Linked DNA regions of Homo sapiens. The protein of the gene in region 5 interacts with the protein of the main gene of each other region in a pairwise test. Each region holds a gene or a part of one and is shown on either strand. Other genes may lie near its edges. The genes, in order: GLRX5, SDHAF1, HELZ, SUCLG2, HSCB, LYRM7 and ETFA.

The links.
Region 1: the proteins of HSCB (region 5) and GLRX5 interact in binary tests that used the Homo sapiens proteins (3 or more experiments, as listed by UniProt).
Region 2: the proteins of HSCB (region 5) and SDHAF1 interact in binary tests that used the Homo sapiens proteins (3 or more experiments, as listed by UniProt).
Region 3: the proteins of HSCB (region 5) and HELZ interact in binary tests that used the Homo sapiens proteins (3 or more experiments, as listed by UniProt).
Region 4: the proteins of HSCB (region 5) and SUCLG2 interact in binary tests that used the Homo sapiens proteins (3 or more experiments, as listed by UniProt).
Region 6: the proteins of HSCB (region 5) and LYRM7 interact in binary tests that used the Homo sapiens proteins (3 or more experiments, as listed by UniProt).
Region 7: the proteins of HSCB (region 5) and ETFA interact in binary tests that used the Homo sapiens proteins (3 or more experiments, as listed by UniProt).

Annotation. Positions count from the first base shown.
Region 1 is NC_000014.9:95,541,550-95,545,049, reverse strand, and holds the end of GLRX5 (glutaredoxin-related protein 5, mitochondrial precursor), read right to left. Parts: intron 1,104-3,500; coding exon 925-1,103; 3' UTR 336-924; downstream 1-335.
Region 2 is NC_000019.10:35,993,945-35,996,812, forward strand, and holds SDHAF1 (succinate dehydrogenase assembly factor 1, mitochondrial), read left to right. Parts: upstream 1-1,243; 5' UTR 1,244-1,330; coding exon 1,331-1,678; 3' UTR 1,679-2,368; downstream 2,369-2,868.
Region 3 is NC_000017.11:67,186,197-67,189,696, forward strand, and holds part of HELZ (probable helicase with zinc finger domain), read right to left. Parts: coding exon 3,393-3,500; intron 2,421-3,392; coding exon 2,123-2,420; intron 1-2,122. UniProt on the Homo sapiens protein: May act as a helicase that plays a role in RNA metabolism in multiple tissues and organs within the developing embryo.
Region 4 is NC_000003.12:67,525,613-67,529,112, forward strand, and holds part of SUCLG2 (succinate--CoA ligase [GDP-forming] subunit beta, mitochondrial isoform 2 precursor), read right to left. Parts: coding exon 3,475-3,500; intron 2,611-3,474; coding exon 2,520-2,610; intron 1-2,519. UniProt on the Homo sapiens protein: GTP-specific succinyl-CoA synthetase functions in the citric acid cycle (TCA), coupling the hydrolysis of succinyl-CoA to the synthesis of GTP and thus represents the only step of substrate-level phosphorylation in the TCA.
Region 5 is NC_000022.11:28,752,039-28,755,024, reverse strand, and holds part of HSCB (iron-sulfur cluster co-chaperone protein HscB isoform 1 precursor), read right to left. Parts: intron 1-2,986.
Region 6 is NC_000005.10:131,194,944-131,198,443, reverse strand, and holds part of LYRM7 (complex III assembly factor LYRM7), read right to left. Parts: intron 1-3,500.
Region 7 is NC_000015.10:76,280,470-76,283,969, forward strand, and holds part of ETFA (electron transfer flavoprotein subunit alpha, mitochondrial), read right to left. Parts: intron 3,357-3,500; coding exon 3,288-3,356; intron 1-3,287. UniProt on the Homo sapiens protein: Heterodimeric electron transfer flavoprotein that accepts electrons from several mitochondrial dehydrogenases, including acyl-CoA dehydrogenases, glutaryl-CoA and sarcosine dehydrogenase.

The DNA.
Region 1 (3,500 bases), on a different chromosome or scaffold from region 5:
GGGATGCAGAACTCATGGAAAGGTCTTATAAAGACACCAGACACTGGGAGAATCTCTGCCACAATTCCAAATTATGTCCTCTTTTAGAAAGTCCCCACTTTTTAAGAAGTAAAATACTCATTAAATCCCCTAGCTCGGTGGACTGTTGACGATGTCTCCCTATCTAACTGTAGCAGTGTGCCAAGCACAGGGCTCCAGAGATAGGCAGGTGGGGCCGCCTCCTCCGGCCTCACCCACCTCTGCTCCCTCCAGCCCACCCACGCCTCCAGCTGCACAGTTGACTCACCATCCAAACAGCTGCTTCCCCCAGAAAGTAGACCAGGGCTCGACGGCAATTCTTGTGGCAAATTTAATAGAAGAATATGAGACTCACCCTTACTTCCCACACATAAAACACTGCAGGCACTCCAAATCCTTACAGACATATGCACTTCGGAATCAACTCAGGCATGCACAGCATCCCTGTGCTGGAGTTTATTTTAAAAAACAACGCCCCAGTTATCACAGTTTCTTTTTTTGTTCACCATTTTCCATAACAAAAGAAGCTACACAAAATTTGGGGGGAGATACTCTCTTTGGAGACTGACACATTTGCAGAGGGGTCATGAATAATGATTCCAAAGCTCCTATTTAACTTCTGAATCAGGCAAAGAATAAGTGACAATATAAGAATGAATTTTGTTTACAGCAATATCATAATACAGCATTGAATCATTACAGTGCAGTGGTTGTAATTAAGTCCACAATAAAATATTCTTAGCCCGAACACCAGACCAACTAAAATCACCAACTGCTCACGAACCAAAATGATCAGTGCAAGCAGTTGCGGTCTCAATAGTGAAAACCAAAATGGGTAAGGCTTTTCTGGCAGTGAGTCTCTGACATGAACGGCTCCCTCTCTGCTCAGCGAGGACTTGGCCGCCCTCACTTGGAGTCTTGGTCTTTCTTTTCATCTAAAAGGGCGGAGTGGATCCCCAGCTTTTTCAGTTCTTCCACCAAGTCCCCATTCTGGTGCATCTGCAGAAGAATGTCACAGCCCCCTACAAACTCGCCATTGAGGTACACTTGCGGGATGGTGGGCCAGTTGGAATAGTCTTTAATGCCTATGGAGAAAGAACATTTATTTGTTATTTAAATGGTAAAAGCTGAACCATTCATGACTAAATATGTAATTTTGACCCACTAGTAGCAGACAACCCACTGTCCCTCCCTGGCTTCCCCCAATCTTGAGAACACTGTGCTTGCCACTAAGAGCATGAGTTTTTGTGTCAAAGAGACCAGTGGTTAGGCCCTGACTCTTCCAATTACAAACCGTCAGCCCTCAGACAAGTCACCTGACCTCTCATCCTGTTTCCACCCTCATCTCCCAAGGTTTTTTTTTTTGTGAGAATTAGGTAAGCAAGATTCTCAGTAAAATACCTGATACATTGCGGACCTTAGATTAATGGCAGAGGACTGGACTGGGTAATGCAAGTCACATAAGATACATAAGGCCAAAATTCTCCATCTACCAGTCAAGCTTCAAGCGAAACAAAACTTGAAGAAATGTCACAACCAACTTCATTTCCAAATGGATCCATCACGGTAATTCATGGCCAACTCGGGCAATCCCACCTGTGCACTTTTCATGACTGTGACTGTCTAAGTTGGTGCAGGCCGTCAGTCACTTCTCCTCGAGATGATGAGTTGTTGAGTTTTTTTTTTTTTTAATTTTTAACAATTACTTTTACCCAGGGAAAAATCCCTGTCCCACAGCTATGGGTTGTCAGTTCCCATCTATCCAGCCACTGTGATGGGCTCTCTGTGGAGTGGATGATGAGGCTCTGTGCAGAACCCGAAGTGACTGGTGAGTCTAATGAAGGCCCAGAGCTCAGCAAGGTCCCTGTCCAGGGCTGAGGGGTGGGGGAGTGAGACCCGCTCTGCTCTTAAGCGCTCACAGCAGCCAAGAAACCAACCAGCATGCATGTGATCAGTCCTGTGTGCAAATGGCTCTGAGGACACACATGAGATGAGGGACACTCTGTGACAGCGCAGCTGTGCAACTACTCTGTTCAATTCTGAGCCACAAGGATGATGACTGTAACAAAATGGTAAGAAAGAAATGTGGCTTCAATCTTAAGACATAAAAGATTACTCTTAACATTCCTCTTCATCAGTCTACTTCCTTTTCTACTTGTATGTTGAGATGACTGTGCTTTCAAAAACATAGTCGGCCATTAAAAAGCCTGTATTGGTCATGTTAAAAACGAAGATGGTCAAAGCATGGCATATAATAACTAACACTTATGTGACACTTTTATATTTACATAGATAGATATTTTTAAATGGCCAAAATGAGCATATGGATAAACAAAACGGAAAAGTCAACAGATTGTTCAAGTCCAGTACAGTTTACACAAATCGATTTTTATGTAAACAAACTAAAAATACAAAAACTTGCTCTTGATACCCTATAATTTATTATCAAACATTTTCCAAATAAAATTACTGATTTCAGTTATATCACAAGTCCCAATATACTATTTATTTTTTTCTTAAAAGTTATTGCCTTATTAAAAAAACTGACTTTGCTCTAAATGACAGCCCTAAAGAAAGCCCCTGAACCAAGGGCTTTATCTTCCTTCTCCAGACTTCACATATTAAGAAAGGGTTACATTGCTCTAGGCCTCCAAAAGGACACCTCTCAGCCACTCTGGGTGCTAGTAAAGAAACAACAGCTAGCTCTTTGGCAGCTGCCAATAAAGGGTAAATTCCATTAATCATCAAAATGTCTTTATAATGCCAAATATCTAGACATAGTAGAATACCCTGATGAATTCAAGTTGTTCATCATGGTGATGTTTGATGCTCCATCAACAAAAACAACTAGCATAATTTGTGTGTTTTTTTACTTTCTTCAAACTCTGTCCTCAAATACAAAGTCTATCAAAACTCACTTTTTACAATGATGCCGATTACAAAACTTTTACCTTTATGATGACTGAGAGCTGGGTGCGAGAATTAAGAAATATTTAAAGTAAACGTGAGCTTCTTTTCATTATCTTCAACTTTCTTAAATACCTTTTATACAAATGAATCATTTATGTGCATGAACGACCTGTTTTGTTTCAATGAATAATATATTGTGTGAAGCTTTCCATGATAATCAATTTTTACTGATTTATTTTGATGGATGTCTATAATTTCTGAAACACACCAAAAATGGAAATGTTTGCTGCCTGAGAACTACCCAAAACTACATGTTTTACCCAAAAAATACATGTTTTTAAAGTAAAATTGCTTTTCATCAATCACTTTTATAGTATCACACTCAATCGAAGCATTGGGCTTGCCTCATTGATTAAACTTTATGTTGCTGTTGATCATATGTCCTGACTACGAGAGAAGGGGAGACCCCCAGAATCCTTACCACCAAAATTATCAAAACAAGCAGGCTTTCAGACATTCTCAACACCCAACACACACAGCCACATGCAAGTGATACTAACTTCTCATGAGCC
Region 2 (2,868 bases), on a different chromosome or scaffold from region 5:
TCTCCTCTCTGAAGGGGAATGGACCCCCCAGCTGGTTGCCGGCCCAAGTGTGCAGAGCCGCGGTTGCGCGCTGGGTGGAGGGGTCCCCCAAGCTCCGGTGCTGGTGGGGCCCGAGGATGCTGTGTCCTTGCGGGCCTCCCTAGCGCTACGAGGACACCTCCAGGCGGCCCGCGGGGACAACAACGGCATTGCGGCCTACCACCTAAAGCTCCTGGGAGGACAACGGGGTTGCAGTCTAGTCGACTGTTCAGGGTGTCCCGGACTCCGGGCTTTAACAGTCGGTAAGGACCCAAACACCGCTGTCCACTGCCCCGACTCCCACCCGCAGAGGGCGCGACCAACCCAGCTCCTAGAGCCACACGCTGCCTCTGGGGGCTTGGCGCCCACACTCTCTCTGCTTGTCTTCCCCTGGCCCGAGAAGCCTGTCCAACCGGCCGAGAGCCATTTCCCTACGGGGTCTCGTCCCTCTGCACGTGCCCAGGGCTGGGACCCCAGACACAGACCTGCCCCGGACGAGGGAACGCACGGAGCTTCCCAAGATGGTTTGAATCAGTAACTGACGGCAAAAGCACGCTTGTGCCCGGCGTCTCTCCCAGTGCCCCGTGCCCTTGGGACCCAAAGTCCGAACCGGTAGCCGGGCGCGGTGGCTCACGCCTGGAATCCCAACACTTTGGGAGGCTGAGAATCGTTTGAGCCCAGGAGTTCGAGCCATTCTGGGCAACATAGGGAGACCCATCTCTGCAAATAATAATAATAATAAATAAATAAATAAATAAATAAATAAATAAATAAATAGCGGGCGCGGTTGCGCGCGTCTGTGGTTCCAGCTACTAGGGGAGTTGAGGTGGGAGGATCGCTTGGGCCCAGGAGTTCGAGGCTGCAGTGAGCCAAGATCGCGCCACTGCACTCCAGCCTGGGCGACAGCGAGACCCCGTCACACACAAAAAAACCCCTAGCTTCCTCTTCTCCCAGAATGCAGGAGTTAGGTGAGGACCCTCTGTTCCCTCCAACCCAAGACCTAGGAGTCCGAACACATAACGCCCTCCAGGCGGTGCCAGGATCCCCAGAACTGCTGTCCCCTCAAGAACACACGTCCCCTACGTGGGAGGCCGCGACCAGCGACTCCGCCCACTTCTCCCAGCCGGCTGTTACGTAACTGCAACGACAGCCAGTCAGACGCGGCAGCGCCGGATGGCGGGAGGCGGGAGTTGGAGGCCAAGGGAAGCGCTGGGCGGAAGTGGCTGTGGCTTTGCCCTTTGGCCTTTGCTGGCTGTGTGGCGGCTCCGCGGTTCGCAGGTCGTTCGCTGAGCGTCTCTGCTTAGCCGCGGTCATGAGCCGGCACAGCCGGCTGCAGAGGCAGGTTCTGAGCCTGTACCGCGATCTGCTGCGCGCCGGGCGTGGGAAGCCGGGCGCCGAGGCGCGAGTGCGGGCAGAGTTCCGGCAGCATGCGGGCCTGCCGCGGTCCGACGTGCTGCGCATCGAGTACCTGTACCGCCGCGGGCGGCGCCAGCTGCAGCTGCTACGCTCGGGCCACGCCACCGCCATGGGCGCCTTCGTACGCCCGCGGGCCCCGACCGGGGAGCCTGGCGGCGTGGGTTGCCAGCCTGACGACGGCGACAGTCCAAGGAACCCCCACGACAGCACGGGGGCACCGGAGACCCGCCCCGACGGACGGTGACAGGCGAAGAGCCGAACTCGCTCGATGGCGTGGTGGAGCCAGGAGGCTCGCCTGACTGCATGGGGGGACTGGGGAACCCGCCTAAGGTGAGAGGTCTTAAGAGACTAGCTTGACGAATTGGGGATGTCAGAGACTCCTCCTTGGCGACGCAGGGGGCCTAGAGAGCCCCGTGATGGACGGCAAGGGAGGCCCGCCTTTTCCGATGCTTGGAGACAGGTCGGTGCTCCTCCCCCATGAGGGCTTGGGGCGGCCTGGGACGCTGGCGGGCTGGACAGTGTCAAGCCAAGAGCTACTTGCCCGAAGGTACGGGGAGCCAGGACGACCCCCGGTGGACAGGGAGAGCCTGAGACGCCCTTCTCTTGACCCCTGAGAACATACCCACTTCTGGCTCCTCAAGGAGTCTCCCCTCTCCTGTATTTAACTCTGAGAAGTGCAGACTTTTTGCTGAGAACGTTTTGGGAAGGTGCCCTGATGAGCGGTGAGAAGCCCGGAATCCCCTTCTGGAAAACTTTCCCCCATTAATTGTGACAAGCCAGGACCATGAGGAAGGGGTAGGGGTCTATCACCCTGGTTGATCAACTGAAGACCCCCAAAGGCCCCTACTTGATGGTTTTGAGGGGCAACATTGACTCATTTGCCCCTTCCCTCTCGGAATGTTGGACAAAGGGAATAAAATTGGGGATATGTCTACTTCCCTGTTGGTGGTCTTAAAGCTTTTATATATTTCAGGATTTTTGAAACACCCCCAGCCCCCCTGCCACCACACACACACGCACACAGACACCTGGAAGGGACCATCTGGGAGGTGATAGGTGTGGGGATCTGACTCCTTCCGGAGCCCTGTAGACTGGCACATTGATTGAAGCGGCATAGTTTTCTCCCCTGGGCAGATCTGTGGAGGGGGCTCATCCTGGCTTAACCCCCAAAGATACCCCAGTTGGCTCCCTAATGGAGGGCAAGTGATTTAACATCTTTGTGTGGAAGAGGAAATGGTGGAGCTGAGAACTGGCTCGGAGCCCCTGAGGCAGTAGTGAGGGTCTCAGACCTGGAAATTTCTCAAACCTGGCTGAAGGGTCCAGCCTCAGCTACAGTGAACGACAAGGCCCTGGGGCAGGAGAGGGGAGATGAACCCCATAGATCACAGATATACTCCCTCCGGTGTCCCCATATGGGCCTGCCCTAGACATTCT
Region 3 (3,500 bases), on a different chromosome or scaffold from region 5:
TTCCTTTTGTGTATAAGCCAGAAATTATCCTAATCAAGGCTAATTATAAACATAATAGCTACTATTAACTAAACGTCTACTATGAGCCTGATGTCGTACGAGGCTTCAGGTTGTCACAATGATCTATGACAGGTATTACTAGCCCCATTTTACAGATGTTTCCCCGTGAAGCCCAGAGAAGTTAAGTACTCTGCCCAGGCTCACACAGGCAATAAGTCGAAAATCAGGATTCAAATCCTATTCTATTTGACTCTGATTTTTGTCCTCTGCTCTTCTCCAACAAGAAAAGTAACTCGTATCTGAGGCAGAAGTAGTCAAAGTACTTTTACTCTTCTCAAGCCTATGAAAGTACCCTGAGCTCCTTTTCATCACCACCTTTTCTAATTATCATGTTTTAATACTATCGTTCTTTTACATTTTACTGCAGACATTTAACATTTTATATTATTAATTAAATATTTTACTAACTAATAAGAATTCTTGACAGCACTTACAAACATTTCTATGGGTAAAGGAGTCTGAGTTATAAGCCACTAACCTACAAGCAAATTTCTAAAATACAACCCACATGTAAGCCAAGAACATCCTTTACAGTTATATTTGAGAGTAGGAAATGTATGTTGTTCTCTCTTTATGACTTAAATCTCTTTATGATTTAAAAAGGATGCTGCTTAGTGGTTCTCAAGGTCTGGTCTCTAAAAGCAACTTACTAGTTCAGGGGTAGGCAAACTACAACACGAAAGTCAAATGTAGCCATTGTTTTTGAAAATAAAGTTTTATTGGAACACAGTCACACCCATTTGCTTATGCATTGTCTATGGCTGCTTTCTCATTACGACGCAGAGCTGAGTAGTTGCAACAGAGATCACCTGCCCTGCAACACCTAAAATATTAACCGTCTGGCCCTCTGCAGAAAGAATTTGCCAAATACTATGCTAATATATATAAGCCAAATACTTTATTTTTATTTTATCAACTACCATATCTATTTAGCTATGGAAATTAATTTATTCTGATTCCAAAGAGTACTGAAAAGATGACAAAAATACATACTACAGAATAAAAACAAGTAAAAGGGATCAAAGTCAGTGGGAAATAAGGGTAAAGTGAAGTCTGGGTAATCTTAGCACACGTAGAAGAAGATGTCACCTAACTGTTAAATTTGGGCACCATCGTTGTTTCAACCTTACTAGCAGCTAAAGTAAAGAGGAAGACAGACCAATTTCACCTTTTCACTATGTGAAAAAAAATAAAATTCTAGCATTCGCTAATGAGAAAAACTACTTCTAGGTTCTCATGAATGGGACATTATGGTACATAGTAAAAAACGTCCTCCACAATATGGTTAGTTATAGTCAATACAAAAGCAAGTTTCACACAGCTCTGCTTTTTGAAGTGTTTGTTAAATAAAAAGTTTTTGTTAAATAGAATAGAACACCTATAAATCCAACCAAGAGCAAAGGAAATGTGGGCTAACATGTCCTTTCTTTGTCCTGTTGGATCTTGGCATAAAATTTAGATATAGGCAATAAATTGACAATGTACAAAGTAATTCCTTATGTCATGCTTACATGATGAAACCAGGGACCTCTTCCCAAAAACAAAGAGCAGATTTGATTAAAGGCACCCTTGGCCTCCTTAACACTAGTGGATGCACAAACTGATTTATGAAGGCTTATTATACTCAAGACTTTTCATTCAGAAACAATGTACTAACATCAGCAAAGTTAACTAGTCAATAGGACATGAAAATAAACATTGTAGGTATATACACAATTACCATTAAAATGATATTCTACCCAAACTAATATTGAAAGATATTACTGTGCTAAAACCATCTTACTGTGAAATGAAACTGGTAGACCAAAACAGGTCTGATCATCTACTCATACAAGTTTGGGGAACCTCAAAGTTCAAGCTTTACCTGGTGGCTCTGTGAAGAAATCAGGGCACAGTGTGAATCATTATAAGCCCATTACACAGTAAATGAGTCAATTAAGTTGGGATTTTTTTCTTTATTACTATTCTCTTCCTATCCATGGAATATATTCAGGGGCCAATACATATCTTTGAATGTTGCTTTTTAACACATTGTATCGGGGGAAAAAAGTCTAAATATTACCTTCTGTAGAAGCTGCATCAATCATTACTCTTTGCATGAGTACTGGTTCCAATCCAAAGTCGAAAACTATGGTTTGGCGAAAAGTTCCAAATATTTCTGTGTTAAATGCTATCCCGACTTTATACACGTAATGATCTAATCCATTTTGGGCCATCTTTCCTCCTATCCATTCTTGACAGTTTTCTGGGACTTCTTGTGATACCTGGGTAGTACTATCTCCGGCAGATATTGCAATGATACTAAAATGAGGACGATGAGCATCATAAAGCAATGCTACACGATACAGCATTCTTGCAGGCTACAAGGAAGTTAAAATAATTCATTGAGTACAAGGGGGTGAAAAATCCAATTGTAATTGGGCTCTTCAATGAAAATATTTCCATAAGGGACTTTTACTTCCCCAAGCTTCTAAGATACTATAGCCATTTAAGAAAAAAATCAGAATGGTTTTTTAAAATCAGTTGTTAAAATTATTTATTTATGCTATATCGCTAGCCTCCCTTCTCTTCCTGTGACATGTTCATTTTTCACTGTGGCAAAAGCTATCACCCTATATAACCATCAACCTTCAAACTTTCCATACTCTTCACCTACAGAAGTTTCATGTAGCCTCAAGTAGGAAGCCTTCGTAAGAGGGCAGTTACCTCTGAAAGCACTGGATTGGGTTCAAGGCTGAAGCTAACTGTTCTTAGATTTTTCATCTCCAGATACAGAAAGTACAGCAGAAGAAATGCCACAAAAAAGACAAAAACTTTTCCACTGAGCATACTCACAGAAACTTTTTACTTTGCTTCGATCTTAAACTTTGACTACTATAATTTAAGATGGGAAGCACTGCAGAAAATGCCCCATATTAAAAACCCATTATCACAGAATTTGTGACTTCATCATATCAAATATAAAAACAAGTTGTTATGGTTTAAAAATCTTAGAACTACTAGAATAAACAATTTTTAAGTAGTTAATTACAAGCCATGAACCCCATCCTATGTCCCAAGTTTAGAAGACAATATGTCAAAGATCTCTTTACCAAATAAATAAATATGAAAGCACCCTAAATATCTACAAAGATCTCATCTAAAAGTATTTTTAAAATTGTACTTTTAATGATCAAAGTACAGAAATATACTTTAGTACAATATAGAACCTATATATAATGTACTTAGATTAAAATATTTTCAATATTCTTTAACACAGAGATTCAAAGGTCAAAAAAACGTTCAGAAAATTAAACACAACTTTTATGCTTTAACTAGCACAAAATTCATACCTTACAAGTGAGAGCAAAGGTCCATGTCTGGTGGGATTTTTTGGTGCTGACAGTAACTGACAGGTCAGGATTGTGCTCTACCTTTACTCCTTCTATACATTCACTAAG
Region 4 (3,500 bases), on a different chromosome or scaffold from region 5:
CAACTTATTCAAAAGTCAACTCAAAATGGATCACAAACCTAAATATAAAACATAAAACTATAAAACATCTAGAAAAAAACATGAGAAAATTTTTATTATGTAGGGCAACGTAAAGAGGACTTAGACCTGATACTAAAAAGGTATAATCCATAAAGGAAATATTGACGTATTGGACTTCATCAAAATTAAACACTTTTGCCCTGCAAATGACCCTGTTGAAAAAATGAATATATACGTTATATAGTGTAACAGATAATACTTACAAAGCACATATCCAACAGTGGACTAGTACCTAGAATAACTCAAAACTCAATAGTAAAAACATAATCTAATTAGAAAATGGCCAAAAGAAATTTGCTTTGTCTCTTCATGCTGCTGTTACAAAATACCTGAGATTTGGTCATTTATAAAGGACAAAAATATATTGTTTCACAGTTCTGGAGGCTGGGAAGTCCAAGATCAGTGCACCGCCATTTAGTGATATGGCCTTTCTTGCTTCATCCTCACATGGCAGAAAGTGGAAATGCAAAACAGGTCTAAGCTAGTTCCCTTCAGCCCTTTTATAAAGCACTACCAGGGATGTCCAATATTTTGGCTTCCCTGGGCCACAATGGCATAAGAAGGATTGTCTTGGGCCGCACATAAAATACACTAACACTAACAATAGCTGAGCTAAGAAACTAAAATTGCAAAAAAAATCTCATAATGTTTAGAAAGGTTACAAATTTGTCTTGGGCCACTTTCAAAGCCATCCTGGGATGCCTGTGGCCTGTGGGCCGTGGGTTGGACAAGCCTGCACTAATCCATTCATGAGGGCAGAGCCTTCATGACTAATCACTTCCCAAAAGGCTCTGCCTCTTAATGCAAACCACAATGGGGATTAAATTTCAACATGCATTTTGGAGGGAGCATTCAGACCATAGCATCCATGAACAGACAATTCACCAACCACAATCTACAGATGGCAAATAAGCACATGAAAAGATGTTCAACATCTTTAGCCATTAGGGAAATGCAAATTAAAATCACAATGAAATATCACTACACACCCATAAGAATGGCTAAAATAATACCACCACCACCAAATGCGGGCTAGAATGTGGAGAACCCTGACCACTTACACATTGCTGATGGCAATGTAAAATGGAACAGCCATGCTGGAAAACATTCATCAGTTTCTTAAAAAAACTAATTATACAACTTCCACATAACCCAACAATTATCCCCCAAAATGAAGATTTATATTTATACCAAAAACCTGTTCATGAATGTCTAGAGTGGCTTTATTTGTAATAGCCAAAAACGAACCAACCCAGATGTCTTTCAACAGATGATGGTTAAACAAACTGTGGTAGGTACATCCATATCATAGATTGCTACATAGCAAGAAAAAGGACTGTAACGGGATTATTACACATTGTATGCCTATATCAAAACATCTCATGTACCTTATAAATATATACACCTACTATGTACCCACAAAAATTAACAAAAGAAAATGGAACTAAATACTGATAAATACAACAACTTAAGAGTTTTCCACAAAACTCTCCCTGAAAAGTAAAAACAGGATGTCACCACTGCAGTGTCCTGCAGCATGGTGCATTGGTAGAGACCACTGATCTGTGACGCTATGTCAACAGAGCAGACAGCTGCCACCCCAAAATGCAGGACCCTAATTCGCTGTTAGGACAGGATCTTCTAACCATGGATGCTTTTCAGGGCTGACACATGTGATCTGTGTAGTTGTAAAGGGATTTAATGTTTAGCTATAGCTGTCTTGAAATTTTAACACGGGTCCCTGCCTTTTTATTTGGCACTGGATTCTGCAACCCAGGTAGCTAGTTCTAGTGTCTGGATACACAAAAGGGATGGTGAAAGGTAGATTGGCAGGAGGGAGAGTTAGGTTCTGGTCTCAGCTCTACCACTCACAATTTCATGACTGAGGCAGGCCACTTTCCTCTGGGCTTTATTTTCTATGTGTGGATGAGGGGTGTGTGTCCACATGCTATACATACTTGGGTACTTCAGCTGACCTTCCTAATGCAATATACCCCCAGCAATAAAAATGGCTCAAAATTACAGTCATCCTAAAATAAGGAATGGGGCATTTAGAAAAACAACCACAATAGGTAATTCTGACAGACACGCCTGGGGTTGAGGGCCACTGTGTGGGAGCAGCGAATGTCCCTCACTGAGTATAAGGCTGTCACAGCAAGCGCTTCTCAACTAAATAGAATGCATCTGTGTTCTCAGAGGGAAAGCCATTGCTCGGTCACTCACCCTCACCCACTTTTTGCTAAATGCTAATGATAATAAATAATATTACTATCATAGAGCCCTTTTTATTTCTCCTCCAAGACATACTACTTACTAAACAGATTAGATGAGCTTTAAAAAATAAAATGGCACACTGCCAAAGAGCAGTACTTCATTAGATTCTGTCAAAAACTGAAGGATGGTTTTCTTTTCTATTTTTTAACACATATATAGAAAATGACCCAAAGTATCCATATTACCTTGTTAACTTTCACACCTTCTTTTGGAGTTTGTTTTGTCGCTAGATTGTACCCAATCATCTGTTTAGCCAGCTGTCCCACAACATTAGGGCTAAGAGAAAGAGAAAACAAGCAGAAAATGAATGTTTGTTGAAAATCATTTAAATGAGAGTCCTTACACAGAGCCTCATGTCTACACTGCAAAGGGTTCACCTTCACCCTCACAAAATCCATGAGTCTTTCTGCTTATGTGCTGCGTGTTTAGCACTGTACTAGAGGCTCACTGAGAGCAAAATAAAAGTGAGTTCATGAATGAATAAATGAAACAAAAGATGCTTTGTGACCTCTTCACCCAAAAAAGTTACAGTCATAGTAAAGAGAGAATGCTGAAATGCACACCAGATTCAGATAAGGGTTGACTGAAGATCCGACAGTGGAAAACTGGGGAGATATTGAACAATGAGAGGGAAAGGAAGAGGGTAAAGATCAAAGTAAATAGTAAAAAGGTGTGTGACAGGAACAGGGAGGAGAGGAAAGTGTTCAGTGCTAGGAGATGCAGGAGATGAAGTTGAAAAGACAGGCTCAAATAAAGGAAGGCTTGGACTATCAGAGGGGAGGTACCCCAGATGCCACTGGTAATGGGGAGTCCCTTCAGGTCCTTGAATAGAGGAGTGACATTATGGAAGTAGCATTTCAGTTGGAAGTGGTATCATTTCCAACATTTATGATGAATCATTGATTGTTTAGGACAGAAGGACTGTCAAGTTTTCACCAATTAGTAAGAAAAATCATTTTGTGGGGGCAGAAGGAAAACTAGGGCACTGCCAGAGCCCTCTACCTATGATTTCAGTTTCTTCTAGTTGCTTTGGCCCGCTCCTACCCCACCACAACCAACCTCAGTGTGCCTTTCAATCTTGAGCAAGATCTTCCATAACTGCTTGGCCAAAAGACAAGGAATAACAACCTCCAGACTTACTCTTTTGTTAAATGAACACCTCCTTT
Region 5 (2,986 bases):
CAGGAGTTCAAGACCAGCCTGGCCAACATGGTGAAATCCCATCTCTACTAAAAATACAAAAATTAGCCGGGTGTGGTGGCAGGCTCCTGTAATCACAGCTACTTGGGAGGCTGAGGCAGGAGAATCACTTGAAACCGAAAGGCTGAGGTTGCAGTGAGCTGAGATCATGCCACAGTACTCTAGCCTGGGCGAAAGAGCAAAACTCAGTCTCAAAAAAAAAAAAAATTAAGTTGGTAACACATGACATAAAATTCATCATGTTAGCCATTTCTAAGTGTACAGTTCAATGACATTAAGTACATTCACATTGTTGGGCAAGCATCACCACCATCCATCCACATAACTTTTTTTTTTTGAGATAGAGTCTTGCTTTGTTGCCCAGGCTGGAATGCAGTGGCATGATCTTGGCTCACTGCAGCCTCCACCTCCCGGGTTCAAGTGATTCTTGTGCCTCAGACTCCCAAGTAGCTGGGATTACAGGCATGCATCATCACACCTGGCTAATTTTTGTATTTGCAGTAAAGACGGGGTTTCACCATGTTGGTCAGGCTGGTCTCAAATTCCTGCCCTGAGATGATCTGTCTGCCTCAGTCTCTCAAAGTGCTGGGATTACAGGTGGGAGCCACCGTGCCTGACCTTCCACAGAACTCTTTTCATCTTGCAAAACTGAAGCTCTCTACTTATGAAATAACTCTCTATTTTCCTCTTCCTGACTCTATCCCCCCACAACCACCATTCCACTTTCTCTATGAATCTGACTACCACAGGTACCTCATATAAGTGGAATTATATAGTATTTGTCCTTTTGTGACTGACATTTCACATAGTACAATGTCCTCAAGGTTCATCCATGTTGGAGCCTGTGTCAGATTTTTTTTTGTTTGTTTGTTTTTGAGATGGAGTTTCGCTCTTGTTGCCGTCAGGAGTGCAGTGACACGATCTCGGCTCACTGCAAACTCCACCTTCCAATTTCAAGCGATACTCCTGCCTCAGCCTCCTGAGTAGCTGGGATTACAGGCATCTGCCACCACACCCAGCTAATTTTTCAGAGACGGGGTTTCACCATGTTGGCCAGGCTGGTCTAGAACTCTTGACCTTGTGATCTGCCGACCTTGGCCTCCCAAACTGCTAGGATTACAGGCGTGAGCCACCGCGCCCGGTCCTGTGTCAGAATTTCTTTTTTTTTTGAGATGGAGTCTCCCTGTGTCACCCAGGCCGAAGTGCAGTGAGGTGGTCTCCACTCACTGCAAGCTCCACCTCCCAGGTTCACGCCATTCTCCTGCCTCAGCCTCCTGAGTAGCTGGGACTACAGGTGCCCGCCACCACGCCTGGCTGATTTTTTGTATATTTAGTAGAGACGGGGTTTCACCGTGTTAGCTAGGATGGTCTCGATCTCCTCACCTCATGACCCACCCGCCTCAGCCTCCCAAAGTGCTGGGATTACAGGCGTGAGCCACCGTGCCCGGCTGGTGTCAGAATTTCTATCCTTTTTTTTTGAGTTGGAGTTTTTCTCTTGTCGCCCAGGCTGGAGTGCAATGGTGCGATCTCAGCTCACTGCAACATCTGTCTCCCGGGTTCAAGCGATCTTCCTGCCTCAGCCTCCTGAGTAGCTGGGATTACAGGCGCCCGCCACCATGCCACCCTAATTTTTTTGTATTTTTAGTAGAGATGGGGTTTTACCATGTTGGCCAGGCAGGTCTCGAACTCCGGACCTCAAATGATCCGCCCGCCTCAGCCTCCCAAAGTGCTGGGATTACAGATGTGAGCCACCACGCCCGGTCTAATGTTGCTTTTATTATTTTGAAAACACTTTGTTAGATCAATTTAAAAAATAAGTTTTAATTTTGCATTTACTTATTCCTTTCTCCAATGGTCTTCCTTTCGTTATGTAGACCCAAGTTTCCGACCTATATAAATTTCCTCCACTCTAAATAATTTTTTTTTTTGAGATGGCATCTCATTCTGTCACCCAGGTTGGAGTGCATTGGCGTGATCTCGGCTCACTGCAACCTCCGACTTCCGGGATCAAGCCATTCTCCTGCCTCAGCCTTCGGAGTAGCTGGGATTACAGGCGAGCGCCACCATGCCTGGCTACTTTTTGTATTTTTAGTAGAGACGGGGTTCCACCATGTTTGTCAGGCTGGTCTCGAACTCCTGACCTTGTGATCCGCCCACCTTGGCCTCTCAAAATGTGGGGATTACAGGCGTGAGCCACCACGCCTAGCCAATCAATTCTTTTAACATTTTTTTTACGTGGCAGGTCTCCTGTCAACAAATTTTTTTTTTTTTTTGAGATGGAGTCTCGCTCTGTTGCACAGGCTGGAGTGCAGTGGCGCGATCTCTGCTCACTGCAAGCTCCGCCTCCCGGGTTCACGCCATTCTCCTGCCTCAGCCTCCCGAGTAGCTGGGACTACAGACGGTCACCACCAGGCCTGGCTAATTTTTTGTATTTTTAGTAGAGACAGGGTTTCACTGTGTTAGCCAGGATATTCTCAATCTCCTGACCTTGTGATCCGCCAGCCTCAGCCTCTCAAAGTGCTGGGGTTACAGGCATCATTAACCATGCCCGGCCCAATTTTTTTTTTTTTTTTTTTTGAGACAAAGTCTTGCTCTGTCACCAGGCTGGAGTGCAGTGGCGTGATCTTGGCTTACTGCAGCCTCCGCCTCCCAGGTTCAAACGATTCTCCTGCCTCAGCCTCCCTAGTAGCTGGGATTACAGGCGCGCCACTGCGCCTGGCTAATTTTGTATTTTTAGTAGAGATGGGGTTTCACCATGTTGGCCAGGATGGTCTTGATCTCTTGATCCACCCGCCTCGGCCTCCCAAAGTGTTGGGATTACAAGTGTGAGCCACCGCGCCCAGCCCAAATTCCTTCAATTTTTATTTGCCTGAGAATAGCTTCATTCCTCCTTCAGGTTTTTTTTTTGTTTGTTTTGAGAGGGAGTCTCGCTTTGTTGCCCAGGCTGGAGTGCAGTGGCGTGATCTTG
Region 6 (3,500 bases), on a different chromosome or scaffold from region 5:
AAACATCATGGACATGAAAGACGAAGAAAGACTGAAGGACTGCTCTAGATTAAGGATACCTAAAGAGACATGATGACTACATGCAATGTGTGATCCCCAATAGGATACTGGTCCACAGGGAATTTTTTTTCCTTTTGCCATAAAATACATTATTAGGACAAATGGAAAGATTAAATGATAGCATTGCATCAATATTAATACCCTGGTTTTGGTCATTATATTGCAGTTACATTAGAGAATGTCCTTGTATATTTAGGAAATACACACTGAAGTATCTTAAAAAAATATACTCTAAGGTATTTCTCCAGGAGATCTAGACCCAAATGGGCTGTCATAATTCTAAAAATGTTCATTTGGGGTAAATAGGCATTATGTCTGCAACTTACTCTCAGAAAGTTCAGGAAAAAAAAATGAGGGAAACACAATAAGGCAAATATGGTAAAATGTTAGCATTTGTAGAATCTGGGTAAAGGAAATTCTCATACCCTTCAACTTTTGCACTTTTTTTGTAAATCTGAATTATTTCAAAATAAAAAGGTTTTAAAAATATATATATTTACACACACACACACACACACACACACACACACACACACAGTGGCCAGATGCAGCGGCTCATGCCTGTAATTCTGGCACTTTGGGAAGCTGAGGTGGGAAGATTGCTTGAGGCCAGGAGTTTGAGACCAGCTTGGGAAACACAGCGAGACTCTGTCTCTACAAAAAATTGTTTAAAAATTAGCTAGGCATGGTGGTGCACACCTGTATTCCTAGCTACTCAAGAGGCTGAGGCAGGAGGATTGCTTGAGCCCAGGAGTTTGAGATTACAGTGAGCAATAATTATGCTACTGCACTCCAGCCTGGGAGACAGACTCTCTCTCTCAAAAAAAAAAAAAAAAAAAAAAGACAGAAGACAACACTAAAACAAATTCAACCCAAAAGGCAAACTGAATATTTCACTTAATTAAGAAAGAACTGGTCTGACTAAGAATAGTGCTCTTATTAGCCAGATGATAAATTTGGCTTACTGAAATGAAAACCAGTTAAATAAGTATTATTTAACCATTGTTTATATCTCACTTGCTTTTACCAAACCTATGGAGATTTCATCAGAGAATAAATTGTAGTGTGCATTTTAACTTGTTAACAATGGCAATAATTTGTTTCACTTATCAAACCTATATGTGCCTATTTCATGCTAGACATTACATCAAGAAATTAAGATATGAAGGTGAATATATAATAGTCTCTTCAGCTTCCAGAAACTCACAATCTAATGGAAAAGATAGCTAGATAAACAACAAATTATAGTATAATGTCATGTGTTACAAAAGTGGAACAAGACTTTTATGGGAGAATGGAAAAATAAATGGTTAAATATACCCATATCACTTTAGAGTATGTTCAGTTCTGAATAACCAAAGTCCAAAAGCTGGTTTAAATAAGTAAGAGATTTAATTTTTCTCACATTATCAATAAATACAGATTAAAGGACAGGCATGGTGGCTCATGCTTGTAATCACAGCACTTTGGGAGGCCGAGGTGGGCGGATCACAAAGTCAGGAGTTCGAGACCAGCCTGGCCAACACAGTGAAACCCTGTCTCTACTAAAAATACAAAAATTAGCTGGGCGTGGTGGCAGGCACCAGCTACCAGGGAGGCTGAGGCAGGAGAATCGCTTGAACCCAAAGGCAGAGGTTGCAGTGAGCCGAGATCGTGCCACTGTACTTCAGCCTGGGCGACAGAGCTAGACTCCATCTCGGAAAAAAAAAAAAAGAAATACAGATTAAGGCAGTTCTGGGCTAGTGCTTGTCCTTAGTGATACTAAGGACCCAGGCTCTTTCTCTCTTCCTGTTCTGCTACCTTCCATGAGTGGTTTTGTCTTCACTGCTGCTTGTCATATCACATCTGCACTCCAGATGGGAAGAAGAGAGAAAAGGGCAAAAGGAGAGTGCCAGCTCAGCCTGCTCCTTTTAAACAGGAAAACAATGACTTTCTTGGAAGTAACACCGAATAGACACGGTTTATATAGACCAGAAAGGTGTCACATGGTCTGGAAAATAACTTTTTTTTTGCTTGGTACATTGCACCCTGAACACAATTTCTCAGTTAGTAAAAAAGAACAGGAGAAGCCAAGCACGGTGGTTCACACCTATACTCCTAGTACTTTAGGAGGCCGAGGTGGTTGGATTGCCCGAGCGGTAGTCCCAGCTATTCAGGAGGTGTGAGGCATGAGAATCGCTTGAACCCGGGAGGCTGAGGTTGCAGTGAGCCAAGATCGTGCCACTGCACTCCAGCCTGAGCGACAGAAGGACACTCTATCTCCAAAAAAAAAAAAAAAAAAGAACAGGAGAATAGATACTGGAGAGGCAACAAGCACAACCCCTTTGGCTATGCAAAATGCATATAAATCCTTCTTTCCATCTGTAGCATACATCCACTCACTACCTGTCCCCTCAGGTCTCATCTAGACTGAAATCAAGGATGTTTGGTTACAGTGCTAGTGTTTCCATTAGGTCCTGCTGAGCCTCATTGTTCTAAGGTGGAGATACTGGGGAAGATGCCCTTCTTTGGGGCTTTAAAAGCTTTCATAGTCTACTTCCTGGTGATAGGAGTTTAGGGGCCCAGGGGTGGCCTTAAGAGGTGAAAAGAGCTAGCCAGGCCTGGAGTTTCTTGGCAATACAATTCACTCAAAAACTTTATAAGCTTCAAATTGGTTTCCAGTCATTTCCATGCACAAGTAGCCACAGAAAAATAAGGATGAAGACTGTCATCCTTTGGTAGCAGCCTCTACGTTCTGCCCATCTCCTTAACCCTTACCTTAGGGGCCACTTCTTAAAGCAATGAAGAATAGTAAGTTCCAGTCAGTAAATGAATCATATATCTAATCTTTGTCTGGAAGAATGAGAAAGTCTTGAGGCATCGATCTTATTTCATGTTACAGCTCAGAATTTCCCTGCTTGTACTGGCTTTAGTTTTAGTGGATAAGAACAATTAGCATTTTTAACTCTCCAAGGCTCTAAATTATGGGACTCTTAATCAATTAGACTCTAGGCTGTAGACAGAATTGTGCCTTTTAGCAAAGTAATACTTTTTTCTATCTCTGCTTTGTGGGCTAGCTTAATCTGCATTCAACCTCTTTTTCAATTTTATTTATCATTATTATTATTTTTTGAGACAGAACCTTGCTCTGTCTGTCGCCCAGGCTGGAGTGCAGTGGCTGTGATCTCGGCTCACTGCAACCTCTGCCTCCCATGTTCAAGCAATTCTCCTGCCTCAGCCTCCCGAGTAGCTGGGATTACAGGCGCCCACCACCATGCCTGGCTAATTTTTATATTTTTCAGTAGAGACGGGGTTTCACCATGTTGGCCAGGGGGCTGGTCTCAAACTCCTGACCTCAGGTGATCTGCCCACCTCAGCCTCCCAAAGTGCCGGGATAACAGGTGTGAGCCAGCGATCCCGGCCAATTTTATTTTGCCTAACTCATATCACCAGGAAGTGGA
Region 7 (3,500 bases), on a different chromosome or scaffold from region 5:
ACCCTGGTCCAAACTATGAGTATCTCCCACCTAGACGACTGATATAGCCTGCTAATTGATCTCCCCATTACTATACTTACCCCCTACAGCTTATTCACAAAACTGCAGCCAAAGTGATCCTTTAAAAATGTGTTAGATCATGTCATTCTTCTGCTCAAACCTTGAAATGGTTCCCCATTTCATTCAGAGAAAGAGCAATCTCTACAATGTCCTATAAGGCCCTATGTGATCTGGTCTTGTGTTGCCTCCCAATTTTATCTCTTGCTACTTTCTCTTTTGCACTTTCCATTCCAACACTGGCCTCCTTCCTATTCGTCAAATAGGCCAGATGTGTTCCTGCGTTAGACAGGCTCTGTGCACTTTACTAGTTGCTCTGGTCTGGAACACTCTCCCTCAGATCTCCTCATGGGTCGCTTCCTCACCTCCTTCAAACCTTTGTTCAGATGTCTTTTTTTTTTTTTTTTTTTTCAGACAGTGTCTCTGTCACCCAGGCCGGAGTACAGTGGCACAATCTTAGCTCACTGCAACCTCCACCTCATGGTTCAAGTGATCCTGCCGCCTCAGCCTCCTGAGTAGCTAGGACTACAGGTACGTGCCACCATACCCATCTAATTTTTGTATTTTTAGTAGAGGTGGGGTTTCACCATGTCGGCCAGGCTGGTCTTGAATTCCTGGCCTCAAGAAATCCGCCCACCTAGCTAATTTTTATATTTTTAGTAGAGGCGGGGTTTCACCACGTGGGCCAGACTGGTCTTGAACTCCTGGCCTCAAGTGATCCGCCCGCCTTGGCCTCCCAAAGTGCTGGGATTCCAGGCATGAGCCACCACACCCAGCCAGATGTCTCTTTCTCATTAAGGCCAAATCTGGCTATCTTATTTTAAACTTCAATCTTTCCCTTCAATTCTCCACCCCCCATAACCCATCCTATTAGTCTCCCTAACACTTACGACTCTCTAACATTTTTTTTTTTTTTTGAGACAGAGTCTCGCCCTGTTGCCCAGGCTAGGGTGCAGTGACATGATTTCTGCTCACTGCAACCTCTGCCTCCCAGGTTCAAGCGTTTCTCCTGCCTTAGCCTCCCAAGTAGCTGGGACTATAGGCACGTATCACTGCGCCCAGCTAATTTTTGTATTTTTTAGTAGAGACGGGGTTTCCCCATGTTGGCCAGGCTGGTCTCAAACTCCTGACCTCAGGTGATTACAGGCGTAAGCCACCACGCCTGGCCCATATTATATTATTTACTAATCTATGGTGTTAAGTGTCTGTAGTAGGCAAGAAAATGGCCCCTCCAATGATATATTCACATCCTAATACCCAGAACCTGTGAATATTACCTACGTGGCAGCAGATATATATAAAGCTAAGGATCTTGAGAGGGAGTTTATCCTGGATTATCTACATGGGCCCTAAATGCCATTACACGTATCCTTTTTTTTTTTTTTTTTTTTTTTCCAGACGGCATCTCACTCTGTTACCCAGGCTGGAGTACAGTGGCACAGTCTCAGCTTACTGCAACCTCCGCCTTCTAGGTTCAAGGAATTCTCCTGCCTCAGCCTCACAAGTAGCTGGGATTACAGGTGTGCACCACCACATCAAACTAATTTTTATATTTTTGGTACAGATGGGGTTTCACCACGTTGGCCAGGCTAGTCTCAAACTCCGGACCTCAGGTGATCCGCCCACCCTGGCCTCCCAAAGTGCTGGCATTACAGGTATGAGCCACCACGCCTGCCATGTATCCTTATAAGAGGGACACAGAAGGAGACTGAATGCAGTCCCACAGAGAAGATGATATGAAGACAGAGGCAGAGGTTGTAGTGATGTGGCCACAAGCCCAGGGATATCAGAGTAGCCACCAGAAGCTGGAAGAGGAAAATAACAGATTATCTCCTAGAGCCCCCAGAGGGAGTATGGCCCCTGCTAACACTTCAACACATCTCTGGCCTCCAAAGCTGTGAGAGAAAAACTTTGTTGCTTTAAGCCACCAAGTTTGTAGTAACTTATTACTGTAGCCAAAATAAACTAATAGCACCTAAAATAGTACCTGGAATATGGCAGACACTTGATAAATACTTGTTCAAAGAAAGAAGGAATGAAAATAAACCCTGAAATACTACCATCTGATTATACAGTGTCAATATAATGCCTTTATTCTGACAAAACTATTACTGTTTCTATGGGTACACGTGTTATGTAATAGAAATTTCGCACAGGAAAACCACAGAAAGTTACAGGAAAACCCTCGAAAGTTATATGTTAAAGTCTTAAAAGGAGGGTGAGATGACAGAATTGGGACATTTTAATATATATTCATTGTAGTGATTGTGTAATTCAAAAATAATCAAATGTCTTTAAAAAGATTTTTTTTCAAAACAGGGTCTCAATTAGGTTGCCTAGGCTGGTCTCAAATTCCTAGGTTCAAGCAATCCTCCTAACTCAGCCTCCCAAGTAACTGGGATTACAGACACATGCTACTGTGCCTGGCTTAAATTTTTTTGGTTTTTCAAAAAACATCACTCCCTTCTCATCAATGTACTTTTAGCAATAGGTTCTACCTTACCTATAAATGGTTAACTACAATTCTATATTTTTAACTACAAACTTAAAAACTTTAAATGTATTTCTATTTGTATAAGAGTTATATTAAGACCACCAAAAAAAAGATGAAAAACCAGGGTATTCCTGAATCTGAAGTAGGCACTGAAACTAACATTTCATTATTTTGTCTTTTATTATTTTTGAGACAGGGTCTCACTCTGTTGCCCAGACTGGAATGCAGTGGCACGACCACAGTGCACTGTCGCCTCCACCTCTCAAGCTCAAGCAATCCTCCCACCTCAGCCTCCTGAGTACCTGGGACTACAAGCACACACCAATATGCCTGGCTAATTTTTAAACGTTTTGTAGAGATGGGGTCTCACTACATTGCTAGGGCTGGTCTCAAATTCCTGGGCTCAAGCAGTCCTCCTGCCTCAGCAACCTAAAGTGCTAGGATTACAGGTGTGTGTCACTGCGCCTGGCCCATTTCATTATTTTTAAAGTGAAGAAAAAAGAAAACCTACTAAGATTAGGCAAAGGTAAGAGATACTAGGAGGCCTTCTCCTCACTGAATGCTATATACCATTTACTTGGAGGCTTAAGAAAAACTGGTTCAGAGAGAAAAACTGAAAAATCCGGAAAAGTAAAATAATTTGTAGGGCTGAAAGACTTACACAAAAATGAAATAATGAAGAAAAAATATTTCCAACAAAAAGGGAATATCTTTCTACTAAGGAAAATAACTTTACCTGCAGCATGTAGTTGATCTGCCAAGTCATATAACAACTTAAAGTTCTCTCCACTCTTCAAGCCTCGACCTCATTTAAAAAGATGAAAAAAAAAAATTAGGCAAACATCAAATACATTCTGGAACAATTTTGCTATTTTATATACTGGAGTAAATTTTCATATTATGTAACTGCCATATTAAGCATGTCACCTCCTCTATAAACCTTTTCTGG